2 separate regions of the Homo sapiens genome follow, and region 1 is linked to region 2. The links come from fine-mapping of genetic effects on gene expression. A gene starts in region 2. The other region holds a variant in brackets. All regions are shown on one strand. Distances are from middle to middle.

Region 1 (5,385 bases), 64 kb before region 2:
AGGGGAGCTTCTTCCTTCTTTCTTCTCCCTTCTTTCTTGCCTATTAAACTCTCCACTCCTTAAAACCACTCCACGTGTGTCCATGTCGTTTTATACAATTCGACATGAAACAAGAGCCCTGGTGTTCCTCCACTCACTGGAGCTGTATCACTAGGAAAGGCCGGCGAGAGAAAAGGTGGGAAAATTGTATCTTGTAATCTCCACAATGGTAGGCTCTATGTTGGCCATATCAAGAGTTCAACGCAAAATCCTCCCCTCTCTTCTTCCTTTTCTCTCTGGCTCTCTCCTTCCCTTTCCTTCTTCCGTCCAACATATTGCTGGGTAGAATACAATGATATTATTCAGGACTTTATATTATTATTCCGAGTATGTTGGAATTTAGCCTACAGAATGTAAGGGTGATGTTGCCCCAGATCACTAGCATACCCTCCATTCGTTTTTACTAGTTCCTCTATGATTTTATAACTGAAAGATCACAGTATTCTTTTAAAGAGGTTCCTGGTGTCAGAAGGGGGTCGTTTGAAGCAAGATAGCAGACCTAACTATTGGTAAGTTGATTTCATTCAGAAGGTAGGAAAAGCAAGGAGTTCCTCTCTCCTGTCTTCTCTTTCTCTTCTCCCCTAAACAGACAGAACATTTAAACTCAAGCAGTCCTGGGCTCTTACTCAAGACACACGGGAAACTGGTAGGGAAAATGAGAGATAGGATCATGTGCATGGCTATTTAAAAGTTTATTGCCCAATTAATTTGTTATGTATTCTTGGTAAAGCTCAGAACAATCTAACTTGGTCTCACGAGAAGAGAGTATGGTATTATCAAAAGAGAAGCAGGTCAGTTTGCAAAAGGCTATTTTGCTAATAGATCAATTTTAAAGTGAATTCCATTTGCCAAATTACTGATAATTTCTCAGTTTTAATTTTGCTTCAGCCTCTATCCAGCACTTGTATCTTATACCCCCTCTTATTCCTATCATTGCCGTTTTACATGTAAATGGATAGCATTTCCGTTTTTGCTTTTTAGTCTCTATTGTCATGGGTGTGAGTCCTACTACTGCTCTGCACTCTGTACCTGCTTTAGTCCCAGACGTTATCACAAATGTTACACTTTTTTTGGTTGTTGTTATTGAGATAAAGTCTCCCTGTGAGGCCCAGACTGGAGTGCAATGGCGCTATCTTGGCTCACTGCAACCTCCGCTTCTAGGATTCAAGGGATATTTTATTTATTTTATTTTATTTTATTTTATTTTATTTTGAGACAGGGTCTCACTCCGTCGCCCAGGCAAGAGTGCAGTGGTACAATCTGGGCTCACGGAAACCTCCGCCTCCCAGCTTCAAGTGGTTCTCCTGTCTCAGCCTCCCAAGTAGCTGGGATTACAGGCACCCACAACCACGCCTGGCTAATTCTTGTATTTTTAGTAGAGATGGGGTTTCACCATGTTGGCCAGTCTGGTCTCGAACTCCTGACCTCAGGTGATCTGCCCTCCTCGGCCTCCCAAAGTGCTGGGATTACAGGCGTGAGCCACCACACCTGGCACAAATGTTACACTTACACAGCGTCTAACACCATATATCTCAGCTCTTTCTATGCTAGCGTTTATAGGAAAGCCCAACTATTTTCATTTAAAAATAACGTAAGCTGGGGTAGAAAAAAATGTAGGAGCAAAACTGCTCCAAGAGTAGGAGGGGGAAGGGGCAAGAGTTATACATGAAAAAAAGAGTTTGAGAAGCACTTCAGCCATTTAATAATTGATTAAATACAATAATGGAATAAATTGATCATTCAGTTGGATTCATTTGCAGGTTCCTGGTTTTAAAGCAAATCAGTCGGGAACCAGTGAAAAGCCTTAAAGCTCCACGGTTAAAATATCTTCTCCACTTGGGATGATGGCCTTAACCTCCCTGTGGTCAGTTATAAGGTCTTGACTTATTTTGTTCCTCTATCCTTTAAGATAGACATGTCGCCCAAGTGACACAGAGGTCATTTTCAAAGTCTCTTCAAGAAGGGTTGTATGGACTTTTTTCATCAGTACTACACTTTATAGGTTTGTTGTTGTTGTTGTTTTGATGGAGTCTTGCTGCATTGCCAGGCTGGAGTGCAGTGGCACGATCTTGGCTCACTGCAAACTCCGCCTCCCGGGTTCAAGTGATTCTGCTGCCTCAGCCTCCCACGTAGCTGGGATTACAGGTGTGCACCATCACGCCTGGCTAAGTTTTTGTATTTTAGTAGAGACAGGGTTTCACCATGTTGGCTAGGTTGGTCTCGATCTCCTGACCTCATGGTCCACCCACCCTGGCCTCCCAAAGTGCCAGGATTACAGGCGTGAGCCAAGCCTCCTGGCCAGGGTTTGTTTTAAATATTAAAAGTGAAAAATCAATTCTTACAAATACATGAATGAGATTGAGATGTATTTCTTCTTTAACTTTTTTTTATTTGAAACAGTGCTTTTAATTGTTTCAGAAAGTTTAAGAATGGCTGGGAGTAGTGGCTCACGCCTGTAATCCCAGCACTGTGGGAGGCCGAGGAGGGCGAATCACCTGAGGTCAGGAGCTCGAGACCAGCCTGGCCAACATGGCGAAACCCCGTCTCTACTAAAAATACAAAAAAATTGCTGGGCATGGTGGCATGCACCTGTAATCCCAGCTATTCAGGAGGCTGAGGCAGGAGAATTGCTTGAGCCCCGGGAGGTGGGGGTTGCAGTGAACTGAGATGGCACCATTGCACTCCAGCCTGGGGGACAGAGTGAGACTCCATCTCAAAAAAAAAATAAAAAATAAAAAATAAAGTTTGAGACAACATTTCTCATGAATTCTTTGGATTCTTTGGGACTGGGGTAAGTGGAAAGGGCTGGGGACAAAGTTCGGGGTAGTAATTATGTTCTAGGACCATCCTAACAACATGATGCCATTCTTCTCTTCCAATAATTGTATCTCCCCTTTGTTTCTGAGAATTGTGGGCCTCACCCTCCATGACGCCTCA[C/T]GTCGAAGGAACAATTTGCTGTTGTTTTCAAGATTTTGCTACACTGAAATCCATAGTCCATAAATCACATTTAAAGGAGAGAGTGGGCAGATGATTAAAATGCTTTTTCTAAATTCTCGGAACAGCCTTACCATGGAAGCATACTGACTATTAATCACCAAACTCAGCAGGACTGTAATCTTTGCCTTTTAGGAGGAGTCACAAGCATAACAGGTTTGAGTTGTATTGTGAGGCTGGTCATTGAGACTGCAGCATCAACAGGACATTTGTGCACACAGCGGGGCATCTGTCGACTTTTGCCAACAGAGGCATGTGTGAACATTTAAAAAAAAAATAAACCTGTTTACAACAGTTTTAGATTTACAGAATTATTGTGAAGTTAGTAAAGAGAATTTCCACATACTCTAACCCCGTTTCTTTGATGATTAAGATTTTATATTAGTATGACACATTTGCCCTAATTAATGAACCAATATTGATACATCATTATTAAGTAAAATCAATGCTTAAATCAGACTATCTCAGTTTCCCCCTTGTGTCTTTTTACCTTTCCAGGATCCCATCCAGGAAACCACATTATATTTAGTAGCTGTGTCTCCATAGGCTCCTTTTGGTCATGACAGTGTCTGTGATTTTCCTTGGTTTTGATCATCTTGACAGGTTTGAGGAGTTCTGGTCAGGTATTCTCTAGAATGTCCTTCAATTGGAATTTGTCTGGTGTCTTTTTCATGATTAGGCTATGTGAACCCTGAAAATTTGAGACAGGTCTCAGTTAATTTAGAAAGTTGATTTTACCAAGGTTGAGGATGCCCGACTGTGACACAGCCTCAAGAGGTCCTGATGACATGTGCCCAAGGGGGTCAGGGCACAGCTTGATTTCATACATTTTAGGGAGACAAGAGACATCAATCAATAGATATAAGACATACACTGTTTTGGTCTGGAAAGGCGGGACAACTCGAAGCGGGGGCAGGAAGACTCTAAGCCGGGGAGAGGGCTTCCAGGTCACAGATAGGTGAGAGAAGCGGTTGCATTCTTTTAATTTTTTTTTTTTTTTTTTGAGACAAAGTCTAGCTCTGTCGCCCAGGCTGGAGTGCAATGGCGCGATCTTGCCTCACTGCAACCTCCACCCCCTAGGTTCAAGGGATTCTCCTGCCTCAGCCTCCTGGGCAACTGGGATTCCAGGCACCCACCACCACGCCCAGCTAATTTTGTTTTTAGTAGAGATGGGGTTTCACCATGTTGGCCAAGCTGGTCTCAAGCTCCCAACCTCAAGTGATCCACCCACCCTGGCCTCCCAAAGTGCTGGGATTACAGGCTTGAGACACTGCCCGGCCTGTTTTGAGGTTCTGATTAGCCTTTCCAAAGGAGGCAATCTGATATGCCTTTGCCTCAGTGAGCACAGGGATAACTTTGAATAGAATGGGAGGCAAGCCTGGGATAATGTATTTTGGAAAGAAAGACAACAGAGGTAAGCAAGCCCACAGAATTCCCTCTCATCATGTCTCATAGAGGGTGCCTGCTGTTGCATGACTTATGACTTTGATGGTCATCTTGATCACTGGGATCGAGGTAGTGTTTGTCAGTTTCTCTCCTGTAAAGCTGTTCTTTCAACTCCTTCCCTGCTGTGAAACCAAAGGAAATGACTGACAGTCTCCATCAATTAGAGGCTTATTTTTGCCAATATTGAGGATGCGCCCAGGAAAAAGAGACACAGGCTGCAGTAGAATCTGCGGCCCATACTTTTTCCAAAGATGATTTTGAGGGCTTCAGTATTTAAAAGAGGAAAAAGTAGGTAGAAGGGGAAAGGAGGAACCAAAACAGAACAGTGTAGACAAAAGCAGCAAGTGGTTGCATTCTCTTGGGATTTTCATCAGCATTCACTGAATTTACCTTGTACATGTGAAAGGAGTGGGCAGAGGCTGGGTGTGGTGGCTCACGCCTTTAATCCCAGCACTTTGGGAGGGCGAGGTGGGCAGATCACAAGGTCAGGAGTTCAAGACCAGCCAGACCAACACGGTGAAACCCCGGCTCTACTAAAAATACAAAAATTAGCGGGGCGTGGTGGTGGGCGCCTGTAATCTCAGCTACTTAGGAGGATGAGGCAGGAGAATCGCTTAGACCCAGGAGGTGGAGCTTGCAATGAGCCGAGATCTTGCCACTGCACTACAGCCTGGGCAACAGAGCGAGAGTCCACCAAAACAAACAAACAAAACAAAACAAAACAAAAAGAACAAACAAAAAACAAAAAGAAAGGAGCAGGCAGAGGCATTGGTCTGCTCAGTGAATCTGCGTTTTTGCATGAAAGAAAGTAAACATAGAGTAGAGGAAGCAGCCAAATATGCTTCAGTCTCCGGTGAGCAGATGGATGACTTCTGTTCCTGTCTCTGTCCTGTCTTTTACCTGTGA
Region 2 (5,385 bases):
ACCTGGAAATGTCTTTCAAGGAGGCATCCTTCAGAAGAGATCAGCCTGGGCTCCTGTTTGTTATTCATTCCTCGCATCTAATTTTTCAGCAATCGTCTTAGCTTTACCTTCACAATATGCCAGAATTGGATCAGTTCTCACTACCTCCACATTCTCCCTAGTGGAAGCCTTCATCCTCTCTTTCTTGGATTATTGAACATCTCCTGACTAGTCTTCCTGCTCCCCACTCCCTGCTTGCTTCCCTGAAATCTATTCTCTTCTAAGAAGTGTCAGTAAGCTTTTAAAATTATAAGGAAAACCATGCCATTTCTCTGCTCCAAATTCTCCAAAGCCCACCTGTCTCCTAACAGTGTACGAGCTAAATCCACAATCAAAGCCTGTGAGGTTGCACACAGCCTGCTCCTGCCCTCTTTCCACTGCCTACTCGCCCTTACCTCATCTCCTCCCACTCTGCCCTGCTCACTCTGCTCTGACCACACTGGTCCCTGGCTGTTCTCCATACACTCTTTGCACACTCTTTTCTTCAACCTTCTGCACTTGCTTCTCTGGCAGCACCCTTCCTACAGATATCCATATAGCTGACTGCCTCCTTCACCACCTTCAAGTCTTTGCACAATGTCTCATTACAAGAAGCTGTGCCTGAATATCCTAGGAAAATCTCAACCCTCTCCTTCCACTCCTGTACAACTCTGCTTCATTTTTACTCATAATATTCCTTACTCTGACATGATATATATTATAAATGTATGTTTCTATTGTCTATTTCCCAGTAGAACATAAACTTCATTAAGGTAAAAAAGGGATTCTTTGCATGGTTTGGTTAGGTTGGTTTTGTTTGGTTTTCTGTTTCATTTCCAATGCCTCAAAAAGTTCTGGCTAATAACACACCTTTAATAAATATTGATTAAATAAATGAGTGGATAAACGAGTAAGTGAATGAATGAATTAAAATATAAGGAGAGTCTCTAACTTAATTTCCTAGTGAGGTACCTTCCCCACGGTGTCTCCCTTTGCGCATTTTCTAGATCTTACTTGACTAGATAAAAAGAAAAACGAAAAGACCTGTCCTGCTTTCTTAAAGGACTAGAAAGCGGACCAGGCGTAAGATCCACAAAGAGAATCTCCAGGACCCTTTGAAGCTCACATTTAGCATATGACAACTCCATAGGTCAGTGAGGACACTGGCTGGCTTGAATATTGTGGAAGACAGGAAGAACACATTTATATGCTTCCAAAGAAGTTATTGCTCTATGTCTGGGTAATGCCAAAATAAATTTGAAAACAAAAGATCACCTCGTTCATTTTGGGCACTGTGCACGTAAAACACTTGATTAACTTTTCCTGCTGGCTTTTTTGATAGCTATTGTTGTGGATGTATACACAAGCCTAAGGAGATAGCCTCTACTATTCATATTATTACTACACCCAAATTACAATGGTCTTCAGTGACACTTAGCACTTGTACACAATCTCTGAAAAGTCACCGTTTCAAGCTGTGTCATGTCAGCGTTTTGTATGTAAAATCCCATCCTAGAATTGATCACACCCCAAATTATTATCCTTGATTGCTCAGCTTTCTCTCAGTAGCTCTGGAGTTGCCCCTGATATGGATGTCCAAAGGGCACTGATGTGGACTGCCAAATGTTTGCAGTGCACTTTAATTACTTCTCTGCGAACGAAAGCTTTCCTGTAGTTAGCAGAACCCCTTGTTCTAACTGTCGTTTGGGAAGATTTGAGAGTCTAAGCAACCTCGTTTATGTCTTATCTTTGCATTTTCCTGTATTCAGCTATTTTCTTAAAGGAAGGCCCAGGTCTGTATTATCCTACTGCCACATAGGAAGTAAAATGAGTACTCACAGCCTTGCGCCTAATCACTGAACACAGCTTTTAGTAATGTTTTACACAAGAACAGGATATTGGCAACTCAACTGTTAAGCCTTTCTGTGATTATTCTTCCTTGAGATCACTCTGATGTCACCAGTGTAATTTGAGCCTGGAGCTTTTGTTCACACTTTAAATAGCAGTCCCAGAATGATTTCACTACAGACTCTCTGGAAAGCCTGGGAGCTGAATTCCGGAAGATCCCCACATCGATGAAAGCAAAGCGAAGCCACCAAGCCGTCATCATGTCCACGTCGCTACGAGTCAGCCCATCCATCCATGGCTACCACTTCGACACAGCCTCTCGTAAGAAAGCCGTGGGCAACATCTTTGAAAACACAGACCAAGAATCACTAGAAAGGCTCTTCAGAAACTCTGGAGACAAGAAAGCAGAGGAGAGAGCCAAGATCATTTTTGCCATAGATCAAGATGTGGAGGAGAAAACGCGTGCCCTGATGGCCTTGAAGAAGAGGACAAAAGACAAGCTTTTCCAGTTTCTGAAACTGCGGAAATATTCCATCAAAGTTCACTGAAGAGAAGAGGATGGATAAGGACGTTATCCAAGAATGGACATTCAAAGACCAAGTGAGTTTGTGAGATTCTAACAGATGCAGCATTTTGCTGCTACCTTACAAGCTTCTCTTCTGTCAGGACTCCAGAGGCTGGAAAGGGACCGGGACTGGAAAGGGACCAGGACTGAACAGACTGGTTACAAAGACTCCAAACAATTTCATGCCCTGTGCTGTTACAGAGGAGAACAAAATGCTTTCAGCAAGGATTTGAAAACTCTTCCGTCCCTGCAGGAAAGGATTGATGCTGATAGAAGAGCCTGGACAGATGTAATGAGAACTAAAGAAAACAGATGGCTGGAGATGACATTTATCCAGGGTCACTTTGTCAGGCCCTAGGACTTAAATCGAAGTTGAACTTTTTTTTTTTTTTTTAACCAAATAGATAGGGGAAGGGAGGAGGGAGAGGGAGGACAGGGAGAGAAAATACCATGCATAAATTGTTTACTGAATTTTTATATCTGAGTGTTCAAAATATTTCCAAGCCTGAGTATTGTCTATTGGTATAGATTTTTAGAAATCAATAATTGATTATTTATTTGCACTTATTACAATGCCTGAAAAAGTGCACCACATGGATGTTAAGTAGAAATTCAAGAAAGTAAGATGTCTTCAGCAACTCAGTAAAACCTTACGCCACCTTTTGGTTTGTAAAAGGTTTTTTATACATTTCAAACAGGTTGCACAAAAGTTAAAATAATGGGGTCTTTTATAAATCCAAAGTACTGTGAAAACATTTTACATATTTTTTAAATCTTCTGACTAATGCTAAAACGTAATCTAATTAAATTTCATACAGTTACTGCAGTAAGCATTAGGAAGTGAATATGATATACAAAATAGTTTATAAAGACTCTATAGTTTCTATAATTTATTTTACTGGCAAATGTCATGCAACAATAATAAATTATTGTAAACTTTGTGGCTTTTGGTCTGTGATGCTTGGTCTCAAAGGAAAAAATAAGATGGTAAATGTTGATATTTACAAACTTTTCTAAAGATGTGTCTCTAACAATAAAAGTTAATTTTAGAGTAGTTTTATATTAATTACCAAACTTTTTCAAAACAAATTCTTACGTCAAATATCTGGGAAGTTTCTCTGTCCCAATCTTAAAATATAAAATATAGATATAGAAGTTCATAGATTGACTCCTTGGCATTTCTATTTATGTATCCATTAAGGATGAGTTTTAAAAGGCTTTCTCTTCATACTTTTGAAAAATTTCTTCTATGATTACAGTAGCTATGTACATGTGTACATCTATTTTTCCCAAGCAATATGTTTTGGGTTTAGAGTCTGAGTGATGACCAAGATTCTGTGTGTTACTACTGTTTGTTTAATAGGAACAAATATAGAAATAATATTATCTCTTTGCTTATTTCCCGTTAAAACTATAATAAAATGTTTCTAGGACAGCATACGTAAATGCCTGCTATGCTTTCCTAACAAAAATGAAATTTTTCCACAAGTTAAGCATTTTAGAAACACCTAAAGTGTTTTTCAAAATGCTGATCACAGTAAGTCAAAACAAGTGAATTACCTCACATCTGCTGGGAGGGTTACAAGTCAGGATTATAAATACTATGTTTTTAAAAAGAAAATCAAATGGCAAATTCTATTTTCAAATAGTAATTTACTCGTTCACTGAAGATAATGCAAAGCACTTTATTAAAAATGAGTTCTTTCCAAGAGAGCATTCCGGAAGATAACACATTAATATGCAAAATTGTGTGTGTGTGTGTGTGTGTGTGTGTGTGTGCATTTTTCTAAGAGGAATATTGATAATTTTCACGAGATTTGTAGAGACAGCTATAACTCCAAAAAAAGTTATAAACAGAAAAAGGGTTTGCGGAGTAGCAGGAGAATTGGAGGAAGCCTAACCCAGGCTGGGGACATACTAGACAATTCCATAGAAATTTTCCCTGTTTCATTTTCACTGTGCTGTGTTACGGGAGTATGAAAGAGAAGGCTGTAAAGAGGCCCTCGGCTCCATAACCCTACTTTCCCATCCTTATGAACTGAGCTTTCTTAATGTTCACTGCGTGTGCTAGAAATAACTTCCTTCTCCTGATAGGGCCCATCAGTGAAAATCTTTATTTTCTATTCAAAAATTGAAGCACACTTGGATGCTAAATGTAGTTCAAGAGTTAAGTGTATTATACATACTCATAACTATTTACTCTGCCACTGTTGTTTTCAATAGGGTACAAAGTATATCTTCTCCTCTTTTCACATTAGCATGTATTAAGTTGTTTTCTTGCAGTATATTACGTTATTTTCTGATTTCAAGGCTGTAACATGGGAGACAAATTAAAAAGCAATTTGGATGCACTCCACAATGGTATGGAGAATAATAACACATCCAGTAGATTATCACAAACGTGTCATCTTTACCATTCATGGAGAACAAAAGTTGGAATCAATTTAATTGCATAAGGATGATTTTTAGCTTCATAATACATTCATTACTTAATGTGAGGTGAAAATAAACATCAGTAGAACAGGGAGGATTGGTTCAGTTTAGAAATTTATGGCACAAGGATAAACAAATATATCTCAGGACATCTCACTGTAATTGAAGAAATGAAAGCAGCAAAGATTAAATAGCTCGTTAATCATATTTGTATCATGAGATCACAGTAATAACTTTCACTGAGTGTTTACTCTCAGTCAGACAATTTTCTAAGTGTTTTTTTTGTGTATTACTAATACATCACTTAATTAGTGCCATGACATAAATGCTAAGGGCATGTGCGTGTGTAATATAGTAATAAAACTGAAGCACAGAGAGGTGCAGTAACTTGGTCAATGACACGCAGCTAATAACTCCAGAAATCAAATCCAGGAACTCTGGCCTTCATTCCCAGCCACTAGACTATACCGGTTCTTTAGGAGAAACCAAGCTTCTCTTTTTCTTTTAAGTAACGATACTTC

Direction of the effects. Alleles are on the strand shown, and positions count from the first base shown. SD is a standard deviation of normalised expression in the study named.
In carriers of allele C in region 1, the expression in tibial nerve of the gene that starts at base 2,043 in region 2 tends to be lower than with T alone (small effect, 0.17 SD a copy in GTEx).

Evidence for each region. PIP is the estimated chance that this variant, and not a neighbour inherited with it, causes the effect.
Region 1: its variant is the best candidate, but not a certain one, in a credible set for the expression of TCIM in tibial nerve (GTEx, PIP 0.56).

What each region holds. Positions count from the first base shown.
Region 1 is chr8:40,087,825-40,093,209 of GRCh38, forward strand. No RefSeq gene overlaps it. Among named protein-coding and RNA genes, the nearest start is that of LINC02866, 14 kb to the right of the region's middle. The variant C/T (reference allele first, on the strand shown) is at 2,977.
Region 2 is chr8:40,151,440-40,156,824 of GRCh38, forward strand. TCIM (transcriptional and immune response regulator) reads left to right here and starts at 2,043. Exons shown (of 1, transcript NM_020130.5): 1 at 2,043-3,871. The coding sequence starts at 2,094. The coding sequence ends at 2,414. All of the region lies in intron 3 of LINC02866 (long intergenic non-protein coding RNA 2866), which reads left to right.